7 linked regions of the Homo sapiens genome follow. The protein of the gene in region 4 purifies or fractionates together with the protein of the main gene of each other region. This does not show direct contact. Each region holds a gene or a part of one and is shown on either strand. Other genes may lie near its edges.

Region 1 (3,500 bases), on a different chromosome or scaffold from region 4:
TTGTTTGTTTGTTTGTTTTTTGACGAGTCTTGCTCTGTCACCAGGCTGGGGTGCTGTGGCGCGATCTCAGCCCACTGCAACCTCCGACTCCCTGGTTCAAGCGATTCTCCTGCCTCAACCTCCCGAGTAGCTGGGATTACAGGCATGCGCCACCATGCCCAGCTAATTTTTGTATTTTTAGTAGAGGAGGGGTTTCACCATGTTGGCCAGGGTGGTCTCAATCTCCTGACCTTGTGATCTGCCCGCCTCAGCCTCCCAAAGTGCTAGGATTACAGGTGTGAACCACCATGCCCGGCCAAAGAGTTCTTTTTTCAGCTCCACAGCTGGACCGTCTTAATAATATGACAGCACAGATGAAGAGTTTTAAACCTTTTGTTGGCTTTTCTTTCGTATCTTTTTGGCAAGGGCACATGAAAATTAAGTACTGATAATATCACAATGAAAGCAGCTGTGTCATTCAGACCAGTGACCATTTTAGGTTTGATGAACTTTTCATTACCATCATCCAGGGTCTAAATTCTCCATTGTAAGGTAAGGATTCTCCAGGGTGGTGGTGAGGTGGGTTGAGATTGCATTTGTATCATTTGTGTTTTTATGAACTCTGAAGATCCATGTCGGGTGAAGGAAAGGATGGGAGGAGAAAAGGAAATACTTTGAAAGAGGGATAACTTGGACTGTTTATTTCCTTATGTGCTGGGTAAGAATGTCCAGGTGACATCTATATGTAGTAAATCAGTATTTCTAGTCTGTGGACCACACTGTAAACTTTTTATCTTTCTAAAGTTTTTTTTATTTTTGTAGAGATAGGGTCTCACTTTGTTGCCTAGGCTGGTCTCAAACTCCTGGGCTCAAGTGATCTTCCCACCTCAGCTGAGTAGCTGGGACCGCAGGGGCATATCACCATACCTAGCTAATTTTTGGTTGTTTTTTTTTTGTTTGTTTGTTTTTTTAAAGAGATGAGGTCTTACTTGCCCGGCTCAAGTGATGCTCCCATCTTGGCCTCCCAAAGTGCTGGGATTACAGGCATAGCCGCAGCACCCAGCTTGAAGATATTTTTATATTTCCAGGGTTTTAGGTGTTTACTTAAGAATTGTGACATCTTATTAGGTAGTATTTCCTAGGATGATTAGAGTGGGAGGCTAAGAATGCTTGTGACCTTTTAGTTCCCACCACCAACCTCTTAAAGTGCAGTCTATTTATTTATTTTTGAAATAGGATCTCACTCTGTCACCTAGAGTGCAGTGGCACTATCATGGCTCACTGCAACCTCGACCTCTTGGGCTTAGGTGATTCTCCCATCTCAGCCTCTCGAGTAGCTGGGACTACAGGTGCACGCCACCGTACCTGGCTAATTTTTGTATTTTTTGTAAAGATGAGGTTTCACCATATTGCCCAGGCTGGTTTCAAACCCCTGGGCTCAAGCAATCCTCCTGCCTCAGCCTCCCAGAGTGCTGGGATTACAGGCGTGAGCCACTGCACCCTGCTAAATGCAGTCAATTAAATGTATAAGAATCTGCCAGGCTGAGTGCGGCTGGCTCATGGCTGTAATCCCAGCACTTTTGGGAGGCCAAGGTGGGAGGATCACTTGATCCTAGTTGTTCAAGTCCAGCCTAGGCAATATTGAGACCTTGTCTCTACAAAAAGTTTAAAAAAAAAGCCAAGCATGGGGCAAGTACTTGCAGTCCCATCTCCTTGGGAGGCTGAGGTGGGAGGATTGTTTGAGTCCAGGAGGTAGAGCTGAGATTGCGCAGTGATCACTGCAGTGCGCTGAGATTGCGCCTCTGCAGTTTAGTATGGGCAACAGAGCGAGACCTAGTCTCAAAAAAAAGAATCAGTTCCAGTGCCATGGTCCTTAGTGTGGAGTAGGACCAACCTAAGACAGAAGCTTGTCTACAGAGAGCTGAAAGAAAGCAGCCTCTTTGTTGCCAGTTTAAAACAATACTGGCATTTTAAAAGCAAACAGATTCTAGTAGGAGACATTGTATAGAAGCGCACCCTGTTGTGAAAGACTGGGATCTTGAGTTTCGTGCTCTAAGTCTTGTATTCTATCAGGGGAGTAATAGGCTTTTAAAATCATAAAGTGACTATTAAAATGCTTTCAGTAGATAGATTCATTACTCCATTATTTCTACTGTATAAAAGTTTATTCTAAACATGTCTAGGAAATATCCAGATTATAAAAGAGAAATAACGGTATCCAAACCAGACTTTTTATTGCATAACATTGGTGTTAGAGTTAGTTTTTAAGTCTCTGAGATTGAATTAGCTTTTTTTTTTTTTAAAGCAGATTATCAGTGAGCTAAGATAATCTGCTGTTTACCCTCACCTATTTGGAACACAGGCAACTGAATTAATTGAATCAGCAATAGGCATGGGGTAGTGACTTTGTATATTTTCATTTTAGAGCCAAAAGCCAGTGAGTTTTAGATTAGCTTTATAGTAATATTAAAAACTTCATCTTTTATTTTTACAAATGTAGCCAAGAAACATCATTGCTGTTAAAATCAGTCAGAAAAGGAGGCTACTTGCTCTTTATTGATTTAGTCATTCTGCTCTTGGAGTGAGTAGAAAGTCTTTGAAAGCTTTTCAAAAATTAGCGAGTGATGAATTTTATGAATTAGTCACTTCTTTGCAGCAGTTTTTTTTTATCTCTACCTCTGTAGGACATAGTTCCTGGGCCAGAAGCCAGATTTCTCAAGTACCATCTAACCCCAGGAATGTGTTATGATACAGATAAATTAATGAACGGAGGCTGCCTTGAGGTTGCCAATAGGGCATTGGGGAGTAATTAATATGACAAAGATGTCATCTTATTAATGAAATGTATTAATAGTATGTCTAGTGGATTGGGTCAATGCAAACATTTTAGATTAGATATTTGCTGTTTATCCTCTGAAGTTACTGTTTAAGGAAGTCTGGCCAAGTTCTAAAGTGAAGCATACATATTTGCCTCACGTGCCATTTTTTTTTTTCTTCCTGGCTTTTTCTTAGCCATCTGGAAAGCTACTATAGGGTTTACCTCTAATGGTAGTCAAGTTACTGTATTCCTCTGGTGTACTTTAATGATTGCCACATTACCAGGTATGTTTTGTTAACCTTACTTAGAATCCAACATTAGACCCTTTCTTCTAACCTAACCTGTAGGAAGGCACTTCTTGAGGTTTTAAGCCTCTCTTTAATGTTTTATTGTAAGTTGTACCTTGGGAGCATCATTTTTTCATCTTAAATCCTCTCCAGTTTAAGAAAAATTTGAAATATAAATGGCAAAAACTGTTAATGGCAACAGACTTCTGATGTAAATGTAAATTGAGATGGAAACAAAATGAAAAGTAGATTTCCCTAGGAATTAGTTAAACTGAGATAAATGGTCCTGGATGTTTTTATAGAAAGTTCTCTTAGCCAGGTGCAGTGGCATGTACCTGTAATCCCAACTACTCGGGGGGCTGAGTTGGGAGGACTGCTTGAGCCCAGGAGTTTCAGGCTGGCAACATAGCAAGACC
Region 2 (3,500 bases), on a different chromosome or scaffold from region 4:
TGCAGTTCCCCGCCCCTCCAGCCCCCTCTCCATCCCCGCACTGTTGGGCTGCACAAGCCAGGCTGTGTGCCTGCACTCTGCCCTGCACCTCCGCTAGCTAGCTGGGTGACCTTGGGCAAGGAACCAAACTTGCCTGAGCCTCAGTTCCCCGCTGTATCTGATGGGGATGATGAGCAAACCCACCACAGCGGTAGCTGGGAGCACGAATGGAGTGAACATGTGTTTGTGGACACTTAAACGGGCACTTCCCACAAGGCCATGGCCTTGCACGGAGGGCTCTGTCAACTGGTACCACCACTGTTGCTCTGGCATTAGCAGGTACAGGCCCTGATAGCCATTCAGAACTTCCTTTGAATGAATGAATGGAATCCTCAAAACAGCCTGGTGGGCAGGAGGCTGGGGCCCATGACAGCCTTGGGGAGGGCCTGGGGTCTTCTGGGGGCACAGTCTTTGCCTCAGGCCAACTCAGCAATTGTTGCAGAGGAATCGCAAGTGTCCCTAATTTGGAAGGCAGGAAATGGGGGGTATCTGAGAAGAGCTCGTTGGGCCAGATGATGGAAAGTGGACTGACAGAGCAGGAGACAGGAAGAGGATAACCATGCATGTGTGATGGCTTTGCAGGGCAGCCCATTCATTCATTCATTCAGGCAGTGGAAACAGGAGTGCAGACCCGAGGTGGGACCAGCCACCTGCACTCCAGCAGGCTCTCCCTCTCACTCCCCTCCCCTCTGCCCTGACAGCAGTAAAAAAATGCAAAAAATGACAGCGGTAGCACTTCCTCATCGGGTTGTGAAGGTTACATGAGTTTAATGCAGGTAAGGCACTTAGAATATGGGCACAGGACAGGTGTTCAGTAAACACGTATAAAATGGCTAACTAAAAAAAAAACACGAGGCCAGGTGCAGAGGCTCATGCCTGTCATCCCAGCACTTTGGGAGGCTGAAGTGGGGATCACCTGAGGTCAGGAGTTTGAGACCAGCCTGGCCAACAGAGCAAACCCCGTCACCACTAAAAATACAAAAAACAACAACAATAAAAAACTAGCCAGGTGTGGTAGCGCATGCCTGTAACCCCAACTACTCGGGAGGCGGAGGCAGGAGAATCGCTTGAACCCGGAAGGTGGAGGTTGCAGTGAGCCAAAATCGTGCCACTGCACTCCAGCCTGAGTGACAGAGTGAGACTCTGTCTCAAAAACAAAACAAAACAAAACAAAGAAAACCCATGAGGCCAGGCACGGTGGCTCACACCTGTAATCCCAGCACTGTGGGAGGTCAAGGATCACTTGAGCCCAGGGGTTCTAAAGCACCCTGGGCAACAAAAGTGAGACCCCATCTCTACAAAAAAATTTAAAAATTAGCTTGGCATGGTGGTGTGCGCCTGTAGTCCCAGCTACTCGGGAGGCCAAGGCAGGAGGATGGCCGGAGCCAGGAAGATCAAGGCTGCAGTGAGCTCTGATTGCACCACTGCACTCCAGCCTGGGCGACAGAGGAAGACCCTGTCTCAAAACAAACAAACCCCACAAACATTGATTGAACCCCCCATTGAGGGGAGCAGGCTCAATGGCAAAGGAAACAGACCGACACTGGCCAAGAATCACAGAAGCAAAGCACCCGGTTACTCATGATAAACCTGGGAAGGAAGAAAGTGGAACAGTTTATTCACTTAATGCTTGTTTGCTAAAGCCAAGTAGAAAACGGCAATACTAGATGTTTAGTGTGCTTCAAATACAAATGTTTGTCAAAATACCAAGTAAAAACATAAATTTATAAAACAGGAAACCAGAAACCTCCCTTACCTTTCCAATGTAAACCATGAGCCACTGCTGCCCCAAGGCTGCCTCAGGCTTCAGGAGTCCTCCAGGAGCTTTTTCTTTAATGCAGTGTCTGTTTTCAGGGACCCTCCTGGCCTTTGGCAGCCAGCTTCCTATTGCAGGAGCTGAGGGTCTAGGAGGGTTCATGGCGAGGTTGTCAGAGCTGGGAAGCAGAAAGCAGCCGGGCAGGCCTCACAGTCACAGAGTCCACGTCCCGGGCAGCATATGGAGAAAGGGTCTGGGCTGGCTGACAGCAGTCAGCATTGGCGCCTCTGAGGAGGTTGAGGGCTGAGTTGGGGAGGTCACCACCTGTACCCAGGCATAACAGGGGTGGTGCAATCAGCAAAGGGAAAGTGGTCTGAAGTGGGGCAGTGGTGAAAAGCTAGGCCAGCGGGGTGGAGCCCATCTGGAACAAGTAGGTGTGTGGGGTAGGGGACGCAGGTGGTTGCAGGTGGGCCGGTACCTGCTCAGCCTGTCAAATGGTGAAAGCCATGGACTATGAAGGTGGGGCTCAAGCAGGGGAGACTGACTCAGCCCTGCCACTTCCCCACAGCAAAGAGCCCAAACAGATCCCCTGGAGGGCTGTCGGGAGCCCCTACGTGGTGGAGTCCACAGGCGTGTACCTCTCCATACAGGCAGCTTCGGTAAGCTGGGGAGAGGTGCCCAGGGCTAGCTGGGGGGATGATGGTGCCAGAAGCCCCTGACACCTGCGCTTCCTCCCCAGGACCACATCTCTGCAGGTGCTCAACGTGTGGTCATCTCCGCGCCCTCACCGGATGCACCAATGTTCGTCATGGGTGTCAATGAAAATGACTATAACCCTGGCTCCATGAACATTGTGAGGTAATGTGGGCAGTGACATCCTGCAATGTGTGGAAGGGAGGGTAGACTCGTCCTCCCCACCCTCAGCCCCACTGGATTCCTGGTCGCTTGGCTTCTGCTTCTCCTTCCCGAAACTATCTGCTAAAAACGCATGACTTCCAGAGGACAAGCTTGGGGAGCCTCCCCAGCTGCACCTCAGTGCCTCCTTCAGTCTGACAGTGTCCCCACAGATCCCTCTCACCCTCATCCTGACGTTTCATAAAACCAAGTCTGCGTGCATACCCCAAGAGGGGTAAGGGTGGAGGGGTGGCTCTGCGACTCACCTCACAGTGTCCGTGCACACCTTGGCTGTTTCAGCAACGCGTCCTGCACCACCAACTGTTTGGCTCCCCTCGCCAAAGTCATCCACGAGCGATTTGGGATCGTGGAAGGGTTGATGGTGAGTTGAGGATGAGGGGCTGGGGCAGGAAGGATGGCAGGGAAACCCAACTTCTTCCCGGGCCTTGCTTACTGTATGGAGTTAAGAGGGAGAGACTGGTTTCGGGAGGAGAGGCCCACCAGTGCAGAAGTCACTTAAAACACTGTGCAACCCTCAGGCAAGGCTGGACCCTGGCCTGCACACATCCCCTCCTGTGGTCTGTGGTGGTGGCCCCACCAGCCTCCACACCTAGGCCACCAACTTAGTCCTGGAAAAAAGAGGCATGGGAGCTTAGGAGCATGAAGGCCTCATCTTGGTCCTTCTCTTCCCCAAGACCACAGTCCATTCCTACACGGCCACCCAGAAGACAGTGGACGGGCCATCAAGGAAGGCCTGGCGAGATGGGCGGGGTGCCCACCAGAACATCATCCCAGCCTCCACTGGGGCTGC
Region 3 (3,500 bases), on a different chromosome or scaffold from region 4:
ATTCTCATAGTGCCTAAAATACTCTAAAAGCTATTTCCAGAGGGAGCTTTAATGAGACATACAATGCTTAATCTCTCAAATGTAAATGTACTAGAACAAAGCATTCTGGGGAAGAAAACAGTGGTTGATTTAACTGAACTCACTTTTCCAAAACAGTGGCTTTTGATTTTCTGTAAACATTGACTTTATTAAGCTTTTCCCTTGCTACTATATGCACTCTCTATTTCTTAAATTGCAAAGAGTTATTCATGAAATTTGTGATAAATATTTGAATCTAAGGCAACGTTTTTGGATTCTTTATACGAGGTTTTTAGCAGCATGTGTACATGTATGTGATAGCTGTTAACGGAATTCACTTAAGTTTTACTTAGAAGCCTGGGTAGTAGAACCTAGAAGTTGCAGTGGGAATTTTTTTTTAATTTGAAAGATTAAATAGGTAAAAAGTCATCTTTAATCTCTATTAAACTTTTTTGTATAATGTCAGAAGTGAAAGTTCCCCACATCTGCTTACAGCCTGTTTGTATCCTTCCTGACTTGATTGATTAAATGGACATCTCTATATACATATGCATATAATTTCAATTTTTGCTTAGTAACAAAAACAAAAGTTACACATACTGGTGACTAATTTGCTTTTTTCACGTATGTCATGAACCATTTTCCAGGGCAGTTCATCTAGATCTCCCTCAATTCTTTTTAATGGCTACATATTCCACTATTATGGATGTACCATATTTATACAACCGGTTCCCTATTGATGGACATATGGTTGTGTCTAGTTTTTTGCTAGCATTGTGATAGATTAGAGCCTGTAATGAATGGTAAGGAAGTAAGTAGATGATAGCACTACTACTTTGAAGGAAAAAGTAGAGAATAAACTTCCTTTGCCATAGTCACTTACTAAATGGAATTTAATAAAAACACTGTCAAAAGTTGGGAGGACCAAAATTGATACTTTTTCTCTGATCTTTTTGCCATGTGTATATCTGAATTCTTTGTTTTTAAAGAAGAAACAGCATTGAAGCATTATTTGGGGGGAAAAACACACACACAAAATCCAGCAACTCAGCATTCATGAGCAACTCTATACTATACCAGTATGTGCCTGTGCAGTGGAAGGAAAACAATTTTGGTAAGGATTAAAACTTTAGCTTTAAACTTCCAGCAGGTTGATATTCTAATGAATGATAAATCAAAAAAAAATTTTAAATATTCTTGTATTGACAGTGCTTTTTTTTTTAAATCACCCTACCTTGATATCTGTAATTTTAGTTTAAACTTTCCCATTTTTCTTTAAAGAAAAAAATCTGAATTTGCAGCCAACAAAAATTAGATATCCTAAGGTTGTATTACTTCTGACTTTTATTAAAATATCAACATTTCTTAGAGATGTTTATGGGCCGACTTTGTCTTTTTCTTCAAGGGGCCAAGTTCACTAATTGCTGAGTTTTATGCATATGACAGCAACCGTCCTTTTGTAGGTGTGTGTCGCATCCATCTAGATACTTTAAAATGCTCATCTATTTCATTTTTAAAATTATGTGTGTGGGATTATCAGTATTTTTTTGTTAAACATATGACATCTGTAGTTTATTTCACTAATGTAAATTTTTTCTACCATTTGCTTGATACAGGAAATATATCCTGGACAATTCCAGCCATCTCTCTGTCACAAATTCATAGCCTTGTCAGATAAGGAAGGAAAACTACTTCGCAACTATACCCAGAACATAGACACGCTGGAACAGGTTGCGGGAATCCAAAGGATAATTCAGTGTCATGGTTAGTAAACTTCAGAGTGGTTTTCTGTAATTTATTTTAGTTTTATAGGAAGATATTTCCTATAAAGCTGACTGCCATCGAGAAGTGGAGATAAAGCATTATTTAATCATGTTATCTCATTTATCGATAACCTCAGAAAAGTAGAAAACAAAAATAATAAAAACAGAAGTATTGGCCTTGACAGTTAATTATAGAAAACCTCAGATATTAATTTGCTTTTGATTTCAAAAGATGCTGCAGTTGCATGCATTCAATTATTTTAAATAATCTTTTCTGGCTGAGTGCAGTGGCTCACGCCTGTAATCCTAGCACTTTGGGAAGCCGAGGCGGGCAGATCCCATGAAGCCAAGAGTTCGAGAACAGCTTGGCCAACATGGTGAAATCCCAACTCTACTAGAAATACTAAAATTAGCCGGGCATGGTGGCAGGCGCCTGTAATCCCAGCTACTCAGGAGGCTGAGGCACGAGAATCACTTGAACCTGGGAGTTGGAGGTTGCAGCGAGCCAAGATTGCACCATTGCGCTCCAGCCTGGGAGACAGTGAGACTCTGTCAAAAAAAAAAAAAAAAAAGAAAAAGAAATTCTGAATACAAGAGTAGTATTAGCTGTTAATGAAGAAATGTGACATCTTTAGTTTATGAAACTAAAAGAACTGGATAGTTGAGATGTACAGGATTCAGAGATTCAGAAATGTTTAAAACAAGTATCAACAGGCCATTAGGTATCTAAAGTGTTTCTAAGAACTGCCGAGCTAAGGTAATAGAGTTGGAACTGTCCAACTCTGCAGGATTTTAGCCCTGGAGGAGTGAGCTGTTACAGTTTTGTTGAAAAGAGTAGCTTTAGAAGGCATCATTATATTAGTGTCTCAGAGATTGAGAATCATATTCATTCTATGTATAAATATATAAATTCTTCATCCCCTAGATTCTCCTGTAGTATATCACAAAATCTGCAGTGTGTTCTGAGGTTTAAAATCAAAGTTAAAAACAAAAACAAAAATCCTTAAACCCTCTTAACATTTGTGATGTTAAACTTTATAACGTTTGTGGTGTGTTCAAGAAACAGAAATACTTCTTTAATAAAGCATATATATGTTGTTTGTTTTTAGGTTCCTTTGCAACAGCATCTTGCCTGATTTGTAAATACAAAGTTGACTGTGAAGCTGTACGAGGAGATATTTTTAATCAGGTAATTTGTTGCCCATATTTTAGGAATTGTTCATGTCTCTGAAGTATTTCTTCTTTTGCCTCAAAATCCTTTTTTACCCCTTTAAAGTATATATGGTACAGAAAGATTCAGGAAGAAAATAGTTAGCATTTGGGAATTTTGGTAAAATACACGAGAACCTTTCAATACCTTATATAGAAAACAGCCCTATAAAGGCTCTTCAAATTATGAAATTGGCTTCTTAGTATCTAAGCCGAACATAAAATGTCAGATCATAAGCAAGTTGTTGTTGTAGTAGTTTTTCTCCTTCCTCTCCCTTTTTGTGCCTGTCAGATTTGGACCTTAAATTAGTTATGGTAATCTAAAATTATTTCATACATGTTCATTGCCAAAAAATATAGGAAAATTTGGCAGAAAATAAAAATTATCCAGAAATATGTCCTGTGTGCTTAGCAATATATGGAGGTAATCATGTCATTACGAAAGAGGAAGAATAGTATATTAAAATGGAGTCATTGGTCGGGTGCAGTGGCTCATGCTTGTAATCCCAG
Region 4 (3,500 bases):
AGAATTAAGGCCCATAGGCCCAGACAATTAAGATCTGCCTGCATATCCTTTTACTTGTGACTAGCTACAAATATTTAACATCTTAAATAAATTGTGAAAAAAATGTTAATCACAAAATCCTATGGTTACACTATCGAACTAGTTTAAATGCCCTCCTCTCTCTTACTTGAAAGAACCATTCAGCATTTTCTTCCATGAATAAGTCAGTCATGAAATTTGAAATGTTTTAAGTAATTTTAATTTCACAATTGTCATCTGAAAGTAAATTTAATTAACATATGTTCTTTTTCAATTCAAAAAGAAATGTAAAAGGCAGACATTTTAAAAATGTCTGTTTGGGCTGCCTACTTTATATTTCATTGCATGTCTTAAATCATTTCTGCTGAAATAACATAAAGTGGTTTTAGGGAAAATGCTTATTTTGTTTGCTGACTTAGTTTTCATCTTGCAGATTGAAATTTTATATCAGTAAGAAACTTTAGGATACATATCAGACATGAAAGTAGGAGGATCACAGAAATGTAGAAATCTGAAAAAAAATAAGCTGTTACAAAACTATCAGATTTAAGAATCATATTTAGCCAATGGGGGTAATTCAGCAACAACAAAAAGTAGTTTATCTTTTCCTGTAGCTTTTTTTCTTAAAGCCTGCTCTATGTAGCTACCATCCTCATCTGATTTACTTAGTCCCTCCTCTGCCAAGATCCAGCCTGAGATATTAATCTGAGTTTCACTGTCATGTCATTCTCTGGGGTGTTATGGCCTTTGAACGACCTTGATGAAGAAACCATTTTGTATTCAAGTCCTTTGGTGTCTTCATAAACTGGCTTCCTGAAATGGAATCCAAGACAGAGCCATATTAGGCTGATTACAACTCTACGGGAGGCAGTAATAGCAAGAGACCACAGAAACCAGCATTTAAAACTTGGTCAGAGACAGTGACATTAACAGCCATCTGTAATAACAGTTCTATCTCTGCTCACCATGGGTCTACTTTGTCAGTCTGTGAAGTTAAAAGATTGAGAACAGTAGTCCTCAGAGACTCCCTCCAGTTCAAAAATGTTATGACTAATGACTATCTCTGTAAAACAGAAGAAGCTCAAGCATCAGATGAGTGATTGAAGAAATGCAAACCTTAAGATGACTTCTGATCTGAATATATATGATCCCCACTTCAAATCACCACAAGGAAGAATACAAATATATGTTTCTGTGAATTTTTTACTGACCTAAAGGCAGAGAAAGACTAAAACCTGCTTTTCAGCTTGCTTTCCTATCTTGCAGTATGCCCCGGAACATTTAAGACAATGTTGACAATATAGGACACCATCCATTTAGCATATGACTGTGTGGGCTGTTTGCCTGCACTCAGGCCACTTGGACATAACCATAATTACAGGAGTGATTCTTTAAGAGAGGCTCAGAAGTTGGCATGAATACACCATCCCTAGTTTTTCCCCAAAACCTTCAACAACACTTTTATCTATTTTTAAATTGCAGTTATTCATGCCAAAATAAAAGCTGTGCAGAGGAGTGGCTGCAATGAGGTCACAACGGTGGTGGATGTAAAAGAGATCTTCAAGTCCTCATCACCCATCCCTCGAACTCAAGTCCCGCTCATTACAAATTCTTCTTGCCAGTGTCCACACATCCTGCCCCATCAAGATGTTCTCATCATGTGTTACGAGTGGCGCTCAAGGTAGGCACAAAGAGGCAGAAGGAACTGTATGCACACTGTTAGGAAGACCTCAATCTCAGTTAGCAGTCATGGTTTAAAAATATAACAAAAATATGCCAAAGTCTTTTTAAAAAAATTAGTTTAACAGATGCCTCTGTTTGAATAGCATATATTCTATCAATTAATTCTTCATAGAATGAAGGAAAAATCAAAATATGAGTATTTGAATAGAGTCTTTAAAAATCAGTTTCAAAATTCATTAAGTGACTTCAAAATTTACAGCAAGTCAATTATTTTAAGGAAGAACAATTCTTTTCAAATCATTCAAACAATTTTAGAGTGGCACATACTGAACTTTTAAGGCCACTTTAATAGCTTACAGATCAAGTAAGTAGGGAGTTGAGACTATAGTTCCACATATTTTCCATATAAACACTTCATAATATTTGATAGAGTATTGCAAACAAACACGCATGCACACACACACACTTTAAGGTGATTTCTGAATCGGATATGTGATTCTCAATTCAAATCATCACAAGGCAATGTATAAACAAATAAATATATGCTTCACACACACTCATACACATACACACAAATTCTAGCTGTGTGTATTTGTCTCCCTGGCCTCTCTTTCTTTCTTATTTTTTTTGGATATTGGTACATTACTTGTAATATAAAGTCAAACTCTTGAGCCCAGCCTCCATGTTGGGCCCCATAAGTTGATGCAGTATACTTCTCCAGCAAAATCACTCAGTTTTACATAACAAGGCATCCCTCCCATTCTCTGCTGTTAATGCTCATCTGTTTCTTCTAGATATAACCTAAGACTATTCCTCTGAAAAGAAACCAAAAACATCTTTGGGAACTAACTCCACTTTTCTGTATTCTATCAGTACTTGGGTGCCCTCCTTACAACATGGATATCACCTTGAGTTCTTGGTTTTAAAGCCAGATTCTGCGTATATCTTGTCTCCCTAAAGAAGCAATCAGTGATTCTGGACTCATCTCTACCAAGGTGTTTGCATCTGCTGCAGTGCTAGAGATCCAGTTGGGGATACCAGGTTGTTGGTCATTACATTCTATCTGGAGAGATGAATGGATTATAATCCATCCCAGTAAAAATAGTTTTGGATAATTGGGATTTATGTCCTCACAAATGATTCTAATAAATTGGTAAGGGTATGTAAAGACAATTCTGAAAATAAGAGAGGAAATCTGCCTTATGAGACCCGCAAACCTGGTGTAAAGTTACACTTGTTAAAACCATGTGATGCAATAGTAGACGTAAAGATAAATGAAACAGAGGAAAAACTCTTGAAACAGGTTTTAATGCATAAAATACAGCTTTTCATTATGAAGGAAATATGGCACATCAATAGAAAATGAATGTATTATTTGGTAAATGTTGAAAATATTCCTATTTGTAAAAAAATACATTCTTTTCACTTTATACTGTGCTTTACAATAACTTTCAAATGGATTAAATAGATAAATATTCTAAGAACTTTAAAAAAAGGACAAAATTAGTGACTAAATATGTTATATCTGAAAAGAAAAGTAATTTGTAAACATAAAAGTAATGTAAGAAATTACAAGGAAAAATATCAATACACATATCTGACTGCATAATATTATACATATAAAAATCACAAATAATGATAGAAAGGCAAATAAAAATTGAGAAACATACTTGAAAAGATATGAAAAAATAGTAATCTTACTAAAGAGTTCATAAAATTAATATTTAAACATTGAGATCATGATATAGAAATATATATACAGAAATTTATATAGAGAAGTTCAAATAGTAATACAAATA
Region 5 (3,500 bases), on a different chromosome or scaffold from region 4:
AAACCTGAATCTAATCATAAGGAAACATAAAACCTAACTTGAGGTTTATTTTACAAAACACTTGGCTTTATACACTGAATTGAAGTATGATTTCAAGGATGATGTGTTAATTCATGCATAGCAGATGAAGAATGTGTTATTTAGGGAAAGTTAAGAGACGTTTAAGGCACTGTTACATTTGGTATCACTACTACAGAGACCAACTAAGATAGCTGAACCAGTATAGATAATCCTCCTCGAAAACTTGTCTGTAAAATATTGTTCTCAAGCCCTCTTTTCCTTCATCCTCCATTATATTACTAGACCATACATTTCAATATTGATAATTTGGGGGCTCACAATATAATCTAATCACATTAAGACTATTGCATGTTAAAATTTTCTCTAATACACGTATTTAAAAGAAAAATATTACATTAATTTTATCAAATGCTAGTTATGTACCATGAGAGTTTAAGAAACTCCTTTTTTTTCTCAAAACCTCAAGAGGCAAACACCACTACGACAGTTTATAGACAAGGAAGCTGAGACTCAAGAGACGTTGCCATATGCCCAGTGCTCATCGGCTATAAAGTCGAAGAATCAGGATTTGAACCCTGGTCTCTCTGACGCCAAACACTTGCTCTTAAGCATCCCTACAAAGCTATGATAAAACATTAATATTTAACTCTGCAAAGTGGAAAGAACTTAAAATACCATGAATCAGAGCAACTGACAGTGATGGCTGGGCAGCAGGATGCATAAGAGGCGGACAGGCTGTGAGTTCATCATGTTAATCTCACCTCCCAGGATGTTACCAAAAGAGGAAAGACAGAAATCCTGCAATCTCGAAACATCTCAGAGGACTAAATACGACTAAATACGACTACTACCTTTCTTTTTCCCTTCAAACAGGGTCATTTAACTTCTTAATCAAAGAACCTTCCTACATCATGTCAAAGATCAGTTTTTAAACTAAGAGTCTTCTCTCATTATTCAAGTTCTCTAAGTACAACCGGTTTGTTTTCTTAAAATTCTGAACTGGTTAACAGACCTCATTTTCTAATCCTCAAGAATTGTTCAAATGTGTTGTTAAAACCCCTGCTTTATGGCATACATTGAGCTGTCAAAGAACGAACAAGCACAACAGAGTTAGTCTGTGCCAACAAGGAGAAAGTCTGCAATACAGTTAAACTCCAATTTTGACGGCGATTTTCTCCCACGATTCTTAACACTTCCCTCAGTCTGCAATGTTTCTGTGCACATAATCATACGTACCTCACAAAGCAAAAAGGACCAAGTAGCATGATTTGTCCAAAAGCAGAATAGTAATAATCTTTTTAAAAGCCTTAATATGCAAGCAATATTCTTCCCCACAAAACTGTGTTAGCTTCTAAATACTTCAAAAAGTATTATAAATTAACTTACTCACTCAACAAATCGGAGTGTCTCCTATATGTCAAGCACCATGTCTGGTAATGAACATGCATGAAGAATCTAATCCTTACTATTCCATAAACCTTAACACAACCAAGAACATGTAATGCTGTTATAAGCCTAAAAAACAAAAAGAAAAAACTCTAAGGCCAAACTTAAGCCTGTCATGTCTTACTTCTAGTAACAGTCTTACTGACATCCTCAGAGAATGTTTTGTAGCATCTTCTTAGTCACTTATTTAAAATGCATATTGAGGTAACTGCATGTTAAAGGAGTACCAACAATTCATTGACAATTTTAGATGAGGAAGCCATTTTGCACTCAGAATTATTTTAACAAAGGCTTTATTACATAACTGAAAATGTCAATTTCACCAGCTACATCTCAAAAATAATCTTTTTCTTTCTGTATTAATTCATCAAGTATACACCACGATACAACCAGTCTTACTTTTTAGACCAACACACGTTCCTAAAGACTGGGTGAGAGGGCTGGGCACGGTGGCTCACACCTGTAATCCCAGCACTTTGGGAGGCCGAGACGGGAGGATCACGAGGTCAGGAGATCAAGACCATCCTGGCTAAACACGGTGAAACCTCATCTCTACTAAAAATACAAAAAATTAGCAGGGTGTGGTGGCGGGCACCTGTAGTCCCAGCTACTCGGGAGGCTGAGGCAGGAGAATGGCATGAGCCCAGGAGGCGGAGCTTGCCGTGAGCTGAGATCGCACCACTGCACTCCAGCCTGGGCAACGTAGTGAGACTCCGTCTCAAAAAAAAAAAAAAGACTGGGTGAGAATTCCTATTTGGAAAATCCTCACTGCCCATGTTGTCCACAGAGCTTATTCCTGAATGGATTGTTATTTAGCATCTGTCAACAGCCTGAATGAGACAACTGATATTCGAGGGACACCACCCAAAAGAAATTAATGAATCAAACCACTGGAACAGTGAACACCTGTATTACTAAAGCTTTTCTATTATGCCTGAGGCTTTTATCCAGTTTCTCTAAAATGGCATGTGAAAAAATGTTTCTCTATCGTTTGTAAAATGTAAAACATTTTCTCCATATATTGCTAATGTTATTTAATGTAATAATCCAAAAGATTGATTATTCTTCATACAAGAGAAAAATCTGCTTCAAATTGGTATGCTTCCTTTCATTAATCAACGTGAGTTACATGCAGCACTCACCTTTCCTTGCCCCAATCATTCATCTAATTCTCTGCCTCCACATTCTATACTACCAACCTTTACCATTTTCATAGTACTCTAATACTTTCCTATTATAAGACCATTTCAAATCCTTTCTCAAAATAGACATCATAAACTATTAAATAAATGTACTAATACTAGAGTCTTAGCAGAAATTTGGAAGAAGTGAAAACTAGCCATCAAAAAATCAAAAGGTCCAAGCCCCACAGGCTAAGGAGGTGGAATACCAAGAAAATAATGCTGCCTCAGAAGACTAGTCATTTGGCAAGTCGTAAATTGCAAAGAAACCTGTGAATAAGAGCGAGTATAATACATACACTGGGCTTTCAGGATGAACTAAGCTCTTGAATGTCCAAAAAGCACAGCAAAAGGTAAACAAAATAAGTCACTTGGCTCCAACTTTCTCTTTATACAAATTAAAGACCTCACCAATATCTTCCTCTGGCATTCAATAAAGCACATCACTCCATGTTTGATCAGTTTTTTGAATACCTGCCAGACACTATGATTGGAACCAAGATCGTAAAAAGGAGTCGACCCTGGGCTTCAGAGAGATTACAGATTTTACTGACAGAGGAGTTGTTTGTAGGAAATTATCACTGCTTGGAGGAACCCTGAGAAAACTCATACTGCAATAAATTCTGAGTCTAGTCTAGTGTTTTGAAGATCAAGAAACAATGTGACCACTTTGAGGTATATGTCTAAAAGAAGGGAAAGCATGGACTCCAATGAATTATTTGTATACCTACGTTCACAGCACCATTATTCACAGTAGCCAAAAGATAGAAGCTACCCAAGTGGCCATGGACAGATGAATGGATAAACAAAATGCAGTATATTCATACAATGAAATACCATTCAGCTTTTCCA
Region 6 (3,500 bases), on a different chromosome or scaffold from region 4:
TAAAGTTAAATTTGTCTTTCAAACTTGAAAGGAGATTCATTCAGATGGATTATTCTTTAAGGTATTATTTCACCTGATGTCCCTTTTTGTTTGATTCATGAACATGACCATAAATATTTCACAAACTGTAATGAACAGAGAGGTGGCATGTGAATGCAATTGGGAAATTATGTGATAGTACATTTTTATTCATTTTTGTTTGTTGTTGTTTGTTTGTAGAGATGAGATCTCACTATGTTGCTCAGGCTGATCTTGAATTCCTGAGCTCAAGCAATCCTCCTGCCCTAGCCTCCCAAAGTGCTGAGATTGCAAGCATGAGCCACCGTGCCTGGCTGATAGTGCATTTTTAGCCAACAAAACGATTATATTCTAAGCTATCATTCCGAGCCAAAATAACCTCACAGTCATTATAAACTCTTCTCTGGACCTCATCCTTTGGGTCATTTCAGCCAAAAACCATGAGAATGTGGCACATATTAGGAAAAGTATTCAAAAAAACAAAGTAGTAATCTATCAATGGTTCAGAACTATAATGTGCCTATGCTTGGAATGCTCAGTATCATTCTGTATCTTACAAAATTAGAATAGCTGAAAAAATGGGGGGCAATTCAGGGGCTATTCTCAGGATAGCACTAGGGATACGGAAGTAAGTAAAACAGGCAAAAATCTGCATTCTCTTGGAGCTTATGTTATAGTGGAATAAGACAATAGGTAAGTAAAATATATAGTATGTCACATAGTGATAAGTGCTTTGGGGGAAAAATAAAGCAAGGTAGGGAGTTAGGGAGTTAGAGAGTGCTGGTGGTGACAGTGGCGGTGGCCATTAGGGCTGGTTTACAGTTTTGGATAGGTAGCAGGGGAAACAATACTGGCAAAGTGATACTTGAGCCAAAAACCAAAAGTGAAATGAGAATAAGTCATGTGGGAGTCACCGAGAACAGATTTCCAGGCCTAGGGGTGGGACTGTGCATGTTTGGGAAACAACAGAGAGGCTTGTATTGCTGAAGTGGGAGGAGTGGGCCAGGGAGAACATAGGAGGAGTGGGCCAGGGAGAACAGTAGGAGTTCAGATGGATGTTATAAGAGGGGACAGGCAGTATGTTTTAAGGATTTGGGCTCTTCGGCTTGGTGGGAAGCCATTGGAAGGTTTTGATCCGAAGACTGACATTTTTTCTTTTTATGGAAACATCACTTTGAACTACTTTGTTGAACATAAAATGTAGTGGGACAATTAAAATAGTTGAGCAGTGAATGGACTTTCTTGTGATGATGGAATAAAAGTATAAATGCCTCTTATTGAGAAAAATGAAAGGGGTTATGATCTATGTTCAAAATCTTGAAGAGATTTGGTTAGTTTGAATACAGGCTTGGTTGACAATACTAGAATTTCTTGAACGACTTTTTTGTTCTTAAAGCCAGAAAGAGACTCCTTTAACATAAATAAAAGTACTGTTTTACAAAGCAGATGATAACTTAGGAACTTGTACTGCCCCATGGTATCTCAGTTGAAAAATGAACTGCTTTAAGTAGAATTTAGAGAAATAATGCCCTAGGGATAGATCCATTGTAGATTAACAAAGTAAGTTATGGCTGTTGGTGGGTACCTCAGTTAACTTTGAAATTAATACGCTATCCTACAGTCTGTTTGTTGGCAGACTCAAATAAAGGATTACATGAGCCACTGGTCTGATTCCGAATACCATTTCTTGTTTTTATCATCTTTGTCATCAAATTGATAGTCTTGTAAGTTCAGAATCTGGGATGCTTTCAATTTGATTTTTTTTCTTTTTTTCTTCTTTTTAGTTCAAAAGAAATAGAAGACTTTCAGTCAACCGAGTCTGTCAGTAGCCAGCAGATGAACCTCAGTATTGGTGATGACAGCACTGGTAGCTGGTCCAATTTAAGTTTTGAAGATGAACACCAAGATGAAAGCAGCAGTTTTCATCATCTAAGTGAAAGGTAACTACACTTTTGCATATAATTGTGTAGTTTAGGTCCTCAGATCTTAGAAGTGAGCTATAAATTTACATTATTATTTAAAAATTCTAAATTTGAAAATATGCTATTACTTTCAAAATGTATTTTATTATTCACAATGTATTTCTAATTGTTTTTAACACTTATTTAATACAGTAAGTAGCCCAGCTAATTTTATTGGGGTGTGCCAATAGTTGATTTGAAAAATATTGCATACATTTAATTTTATGCCTTTTAAGCTTCTCCCAAACTTTTTATGAACTTCTGAGGAAAAATTTTTTTTTTCACTTTAAAAAGGGTACTTTTTTTTCTTTAAAGAACAAGAAAAAGGACAGGTATCTGTAAAAGGCATCAAAGTAGCCCTGTACTTTTCCTGACATTAGTTAAAATAGTATCTTTTTGGTGGGGCGAGGGTCCCTGCTTGTCCTGCTGTTAGGAACAAAATGACCTGGAAGACTTATGCTTGAATGATTGAAAATACGTAAGTCAAAGCCATTATAAAAATGTGATTTTGTATAGCACAAGGCACTTACCTCATATATAACTTTTCTTAGTTAACTTTGTTCATAACAGTGGTGTTTGAAATATTTTATTAATTATGAGACAGTTGTTTCTTATAGTCTTAACCTCTACCTAAAGGCATTTCTGACTAACCTATAAAATTCTATAAACTCTTTATCCACATTAAGTGATAACTGGAAATAATAGATACCATTTGTAGCAGAGTCTTGAGGGAGGAAAGGGTTCTTAGCATATTGCTGGTTTCAGGCATGTGTGGAAAGGACCTGTGGACCATCAGTTGAACTTAGCCCCTGGAAATGGCAAACTAGGTGTGGGAGGGAAGGCAACTCTTGGAAAAGGGAATGAGGTAGCATAAGGAAAGGAAATGGCTTTTCACCTGATAGAACACTTCATCTCGAAGAGTTTTGTTCGATGCTTGGATTAACCTGGAAATATTAATATTTTTGTAAAGTATATTTTGTCATAGTTTATTATGGTGCTATATAAACCACCAATATTTCTTAAAATCTAGGTCCAAAAAGACAGTGTTTAAAACTGGTAGAAGCAAGTGGGGGCAATGTCACAAATCATGATTTGGCCCTTTTCTATAACTTTATCTAGAAAAGGATACTAACATTTAGTTTCTTCTCTCATTTTGAGAAACACAGGCTTCTATGATTTCAGTGGGGTTGACAGTGTTGCCTAGGAAATCCTGGCGTTAAAATGGGAGATTGAGGTGTGGGTAGAGGCTTTAAGCATTAAGAGGACTTGTAGTCAGTTGAACAACTCTGTGCTGAATATTATCTAATTTGATGAGAAAAAGGAGTCGTCTTACCGGTTTCTGTCCTTGGTTCTGTCCTCCTTAGCATTATTTATTAATGATGTGGAATACTCATTTGTGGATGATTCAACACAGGCTGAAAAAAGAATCTCATTAACAGAACAAAGGTTAAAAAGACCAAATCAAGCTGAGGTTAAAATAATTATGTTTAACATGGATAAATGCATTTAGGCTCAGAAAAT
Region 7 (3,500 bases), on a different chromosome or scaffold from region 4:
ATGAGCACATTACACACTCAAATGTTACTCTTCATATGTATGTCCAGCATAAAAAAATGAAATTTAAACTGCTGATTTAGACAACTTGCTTGAGTAACTTAGCAGTACCCTTGATTGAGTTTACAAATATTAAGCTTAGGTTAGCAATAAATGCCTAAATTTCTAGGTAGCTTATAGGAAATGCTTTGGCTCTCAGAGAAGGATGTAGTACTCATATATCGTACTATAATAAAGATAGCCTGTCATTAGAATCATTGACTCCTGACTTATTTTTAAAAAGTGTTACAGCTTAACAGCAGCTCTAAATATCAACTGTTAGCAGCTTGGTCTAATCTGTATTTAATGTTAATGAGTTTAGTTTTTATACTTCTATACATTTATAAGACATGGGGGCTTATATGGAGAGAAGACCGTAACCTTGTACATTCAAAAAGAGTTATCTGTGGAATAATAAATACCATTTCAAACATTTTTTAAAAGTTAACTCCCCACTTCAGGAATTAGAATTATATTAGTTTTGATCATATTTTTAAATCCCAGCTCCTACTGAATATACCTGTGAAGATAATGTGAATCCATGTGGAGATGATGCATATTGTAATCAAATAAAAACATCTGTTTTCTGTCGCTGTAAGCCTGGATTTCAGAGAAACATGAAAAACAGACAATGTGAAGGTAGAGTACTTTTCTTCAACAGTTTGCTCATAAATCTTTGGGTTATGAAGATTCCCAAGACTTCTAAATTGTGAGATCACAGGGGATTGACTTTCATCAAAATGGTGTGTATCTACGGGATACCATTTCACTTATGAGAATGAAAGTCTCTGGGGTCAAGAGCTTGTTTGTGGAGCTAAGCTAACCACGACAGAGGCTACAAAGCTTTTTCTATAGCAAATTCAGAGCTGCAGGAATTTCAATTCTATTGCTACAATACTGTTTTGAAATGCAAATAACGAAATTCCTGGTTCAGGAACTATTGGAGAATTAGTCTTGCTTCATGAAAAAATATGTTTATGATGACCCATTTCTCTTGAGTGTGGAATTTGCAATACTGGAATAGGTAAATCACATTTAGAGAGTCATGGGCTTTTGTCCTAAAACCATGTTTTAAATAGATCATAATGTATCTTTAAAAATTCAAAGTCAGGATCTACATAAATCTGTCAACTTACTTGAGATCATTTAAAAATTGAGCATGTAGGATAGCCAAAATCTTATAGTAAGTAAGTAAATATAATTACATCAGTGTTCTAACTATAGAACCATGAAATACAGACCCATATGCACTTTCTGCAAGTTTCTCCAATAAAACTGCTATTTGTATTCATATTCATATTAATGTAAGTACAGCCAAACCTAAAATAACTAAGTCTGGCTTATCCAGGCTAAATTCAAGTCTTTAAGTGCTTTTACCTACCAGCTTGCTTTTGTTATGTCTCTTTGTGATATTTTGAGGTTAAGAAAAATGATTCTACTTCGTGTTAATCAAAATGGAATTATTTAAATGAATTGATTCTACTCACCCAAAAGGGGAAAAAGTGTAGTCACGTCATGTTTATCTACATTTTGAGTTAAATGTGTATTTGGATTATTCGTGACATTTGATTGTTCCATTACTATGAGACTGAAAGATGACAACCTAGGTTTTCTGTGTTTTAGTTAAAAAATGAATTATCTTTCAAACTATGGTATTTATTTTTCCCAGGCTCTTTCTATCAATTACATATAAACACACACACACACAATTCTTTCAATATTTTAATTTCAATAACATTTATTTTCTAATATTTGTCAGTGGGTTTTTTCTGTATATATGTACTAAATTTAGAAATTATATTATTAAAGTTTTCTTAATTTTTAATTACATTCCACAGCAAATATAACCTGCACACTACATTCTTTATTTTAAATTGCTATGAATCCACTTTTTTGTATTATTTTGTAGGACAGACGAGTAACTTCTGAACTCTAATAAAATGTTCATCTATTTTTAATAAATAAAGTTTTGATTTTAAGGAAAATAGTTCTATTTCAGTGTCAAAGAAGGGTAAGACATAATTGGATTCTATAATCCAAAAATTTAAATTTGTTTGTGCCCTTCACTTATGTATCTGAAAAAATGCATAAGAAATTGCTATTTGATGTTAAAGCCCAAACACTTCAATTAGAATATCTAAAGGGAAAAAAGTAAAGAGGAATGGTGGAAGAAAATTAGAAGGGGATTAACAGTTGCTGAGTGCCAGGTACTGTTTTGGGTACTAGGCATGTGTGGAATTCCTCCATCCCCTTCAAAAGCTCATGATCCAGGCTTTCTAGAGATGAGGCGAAAATGATGGTTCAGGCCAGTATAATGACAAGTGAGGAAGTTGAGGTTGTATGAAATCATGCAGAATACTGCTTATTTGGATTCTGTACCAAAGGGAAACCATAGTGACAAATAACTGCCGGTTCAAAGTTACAGGGGCTGAACAAATCAGAAATATTTGTTGTAATCGTGATGGTTAAGTACTGACAAGATGCATTCTACTTCATTCCTGTAAAATATTTATTAAAAACAACGAAATACACTTTTCTGCATCTCTTTACTCTACATTTCAATCAAATAGCAATGTGTGGTCATGAAAATGCTTATGTGTTCTTAGGCAAAGTATCACAGTAAAGTCAACAAAATCAGAAAACCTGAGTTTAAGCCTTGACGTTGTGATTTACAAGTGTCTCTACCTCTGAGCCCTTAGAACATTGTTTGTGTGCTACGCAAAAGATAGTTATTCTTACTGTGCTGATTCTTAAGTTCTCTAATTCAAGGGAAGGATTTATCTCACAGATTTATTAGGTAATTAGGAGATTATAAGTGATAAAATGAGGCAGGGGAAATATGCTGGCTAAACACAAAAGTAGAGGAGGAAAAGAGAGGAAAATTAGATAATTCCCTAGAATCACCTGGCCTCAATCCTGGCTCTTCATAAGCCCTTAAAATTAGAGTCATGTGCCAAGCTACATGACTCTGATTAAATCACATGAATACTGCCTGTGATTTATTTATTTATGCTAGTGATTTAGAGGTATTTATTCATATATAGGCATGCAGATTTTGCTTGCTTAATTCACATCACATAACCTCAATACAGCCCTTCTTGTTACGTAGTCACTTCATATATATGAGTCCAGAAGTGTGTTAGAGATGTGCCCAAATCTTTGTTCTCTGCCAGTCATTGTGCAAAATCTGGCAATAAAAAAGGAATGTATCATAATTTATGTCCTCAAGGGAATATGAATATGTAACCACATTCCTGAAATATAAGCAACAGTGTAAGAGAGAAACACCAGGAGAGCAAAAACTGGAGAAACTAAGGATGAATCATCACTCCCATATATGGTTGGAGACCAAGGAAGGCTTTATTTCAGGTGGATCTTGAAAGATGAGTAGAAATTCTGTATGGAAAAGTGGGCAAGGGCATTACGGGATGAAAGAATAGCCCATGATACCTTCGAAGGCATGG

The links.
Region 1: the proteins of SFRP4 (region 4) and DCAF8 purify together in Homo sapiens (affinity purification with mass spectrometry; one large-scale study listed by BioGRID and IntAct). This does not show direct contact.
Region 2: the proteins of SFRP4 (region 4) and GAPDHS purify together in Homo sapiens (affinity purification with mass spectrometry; one large-scale study listed by BioGRID and IntAct). This does not show direct contact.
Region 3: the proteins of SFRP4 (region 4) and SIRT1 purify together in Homo sapiens (affinity purification with mass spectrometry; 3 studies listed by BioGRID and IntAct, with this or other methods). This does not show direct contact.
Region 5: the proteins of SFRP4 (region 4) and DICER1 purify together in Homo sapiens (affinity purification with mass spectrometry, with the first as the bait; one large-scale study listed by BioGRID). This does not show direct contact.
Region 6: the proteins of SFRP4 (region 4) and AKAP11 purify together in Homo sapiens (affinity purification with mass spectrometry; 2 studies listed by BioGRID and IntAct, with this or other methods). This does not show direct contact.
Region 7: the proteins of SFRP4 (region 4) and LRP1B purify together in Homo sapiens (affinity purification with mass spectrometry, with the first as the bait; one large-scale study listed by BioGRID). This does not show direct contact.

Annotation. Positions count from the first base shown.
Region 1 is NC_000001.11:160,256,050-160,259,549, reverse strand, and holds part of DCAF8 (DDB1- and CUL4-associated factor 8), read left to right. Parts: intron 1-3,500. UniProt on the Homo sapiens protein: May function as a substrate receptor for CUL4-DDB1 E3 ubiquitin-protein ligase complex.
Region 2 is NC_000019.10:35,539,956-35,543,455, forward strand, and holds part of GAPDHS (glyceraldehyde-3-phosphate dehydrogenase, testis-specific), read left to right. Parts: intron 1-782; exon of another isoform or gene 783-1,629; intron 1,630-1,795; exon of another isoform or gene 1,796-2,119; intron 2,120-2,363; coding exon 2,364-2,454; intron 2,455-2,534; coding exon 2,535-2,653; intron 2,654-2,955; exon of another isoform or gene 2,956-2,989; coding exon 2,990-3,071; exon of another isoform or gene 3,072-3,318; intron 3,319-3,384; coding exon 3,385-3,500. UniProt on the Homo sapiens protein: May play an important role in regulating the switch between different pathways for energy production during spermiogenesis and in the spermatozoon. Required for sperm motility and male fertility.
Region 3 is NC_000010.11:67,905,156-67,908,655, forward strand, and holds part of SIRT1 (NAD-dependent protein deacetylase sirtuin-1), read left to right. Parts: intron 1-1,007; exon of another isoform or gene 1,008-1,099; coding exon of another isoform or gene 1,100-1,132; intron 1,133-1,634; coding exon 1,635-1,782; intron 1,783-2,890; coding exon 2,891-2,970; intron 2,971-3,500. UniProt on the Homo sapiens protein: NAD-dependent protein deacetylase that links transcriptional regulation directly to intracellular energetics and participates in the coordination of several separated cellular functions such as cell cycle, response to DNA damage, metabolism, apoptosis and autophagy.
Region 4 is NC_000007.14:37,910,318-37,913,817, reverse strand, and holds part of SFRP4 (secreted frizzled-related protein 4 precursor), read left to right. Parts: intron 1-1,500; coding exon 1,501-1,699; intron 1,700-3,500.
Region 5 is NC_000014.9:95,151,030-95,154,529, forward strand, and holds part of DICER1 (endoribonuclease Dicer), read right to left. Parts: intron 1-3,500. UniProt on the Homo sapiens protein: Double-stranded RNA (dsRNA) endoribonuclease playing a central role in short dsRNA-mediated post-transcriptional gene silencing.
Region 6 is NC_000013.11:42,306,652-42,310,151, forward strand, and holds part of AKAP11 (A-kinase anchor protein 11), read left to right. Parts: intron 1-1,802; coding exon 1,803-1,958; intron 1,959-3,500. UniProt on the Homo sapiens protein: Binds to type II regulatory subunits of protein kinase A and anchors/targets them.
Region 7 is NC_000002.12:140,353,517-140,357,016, reverse strand, and holds part of LRP1B (low-density lipoprotein receptor-related protein 1B precursor), read left to right. Parts: intron 1-540; coding exon 541-675; intron 676-3,500. UniProt on the Homo sapiens protein: Potential cell surface proteins that bind and internalize ligands in the process of receptor-mediated endocytosis.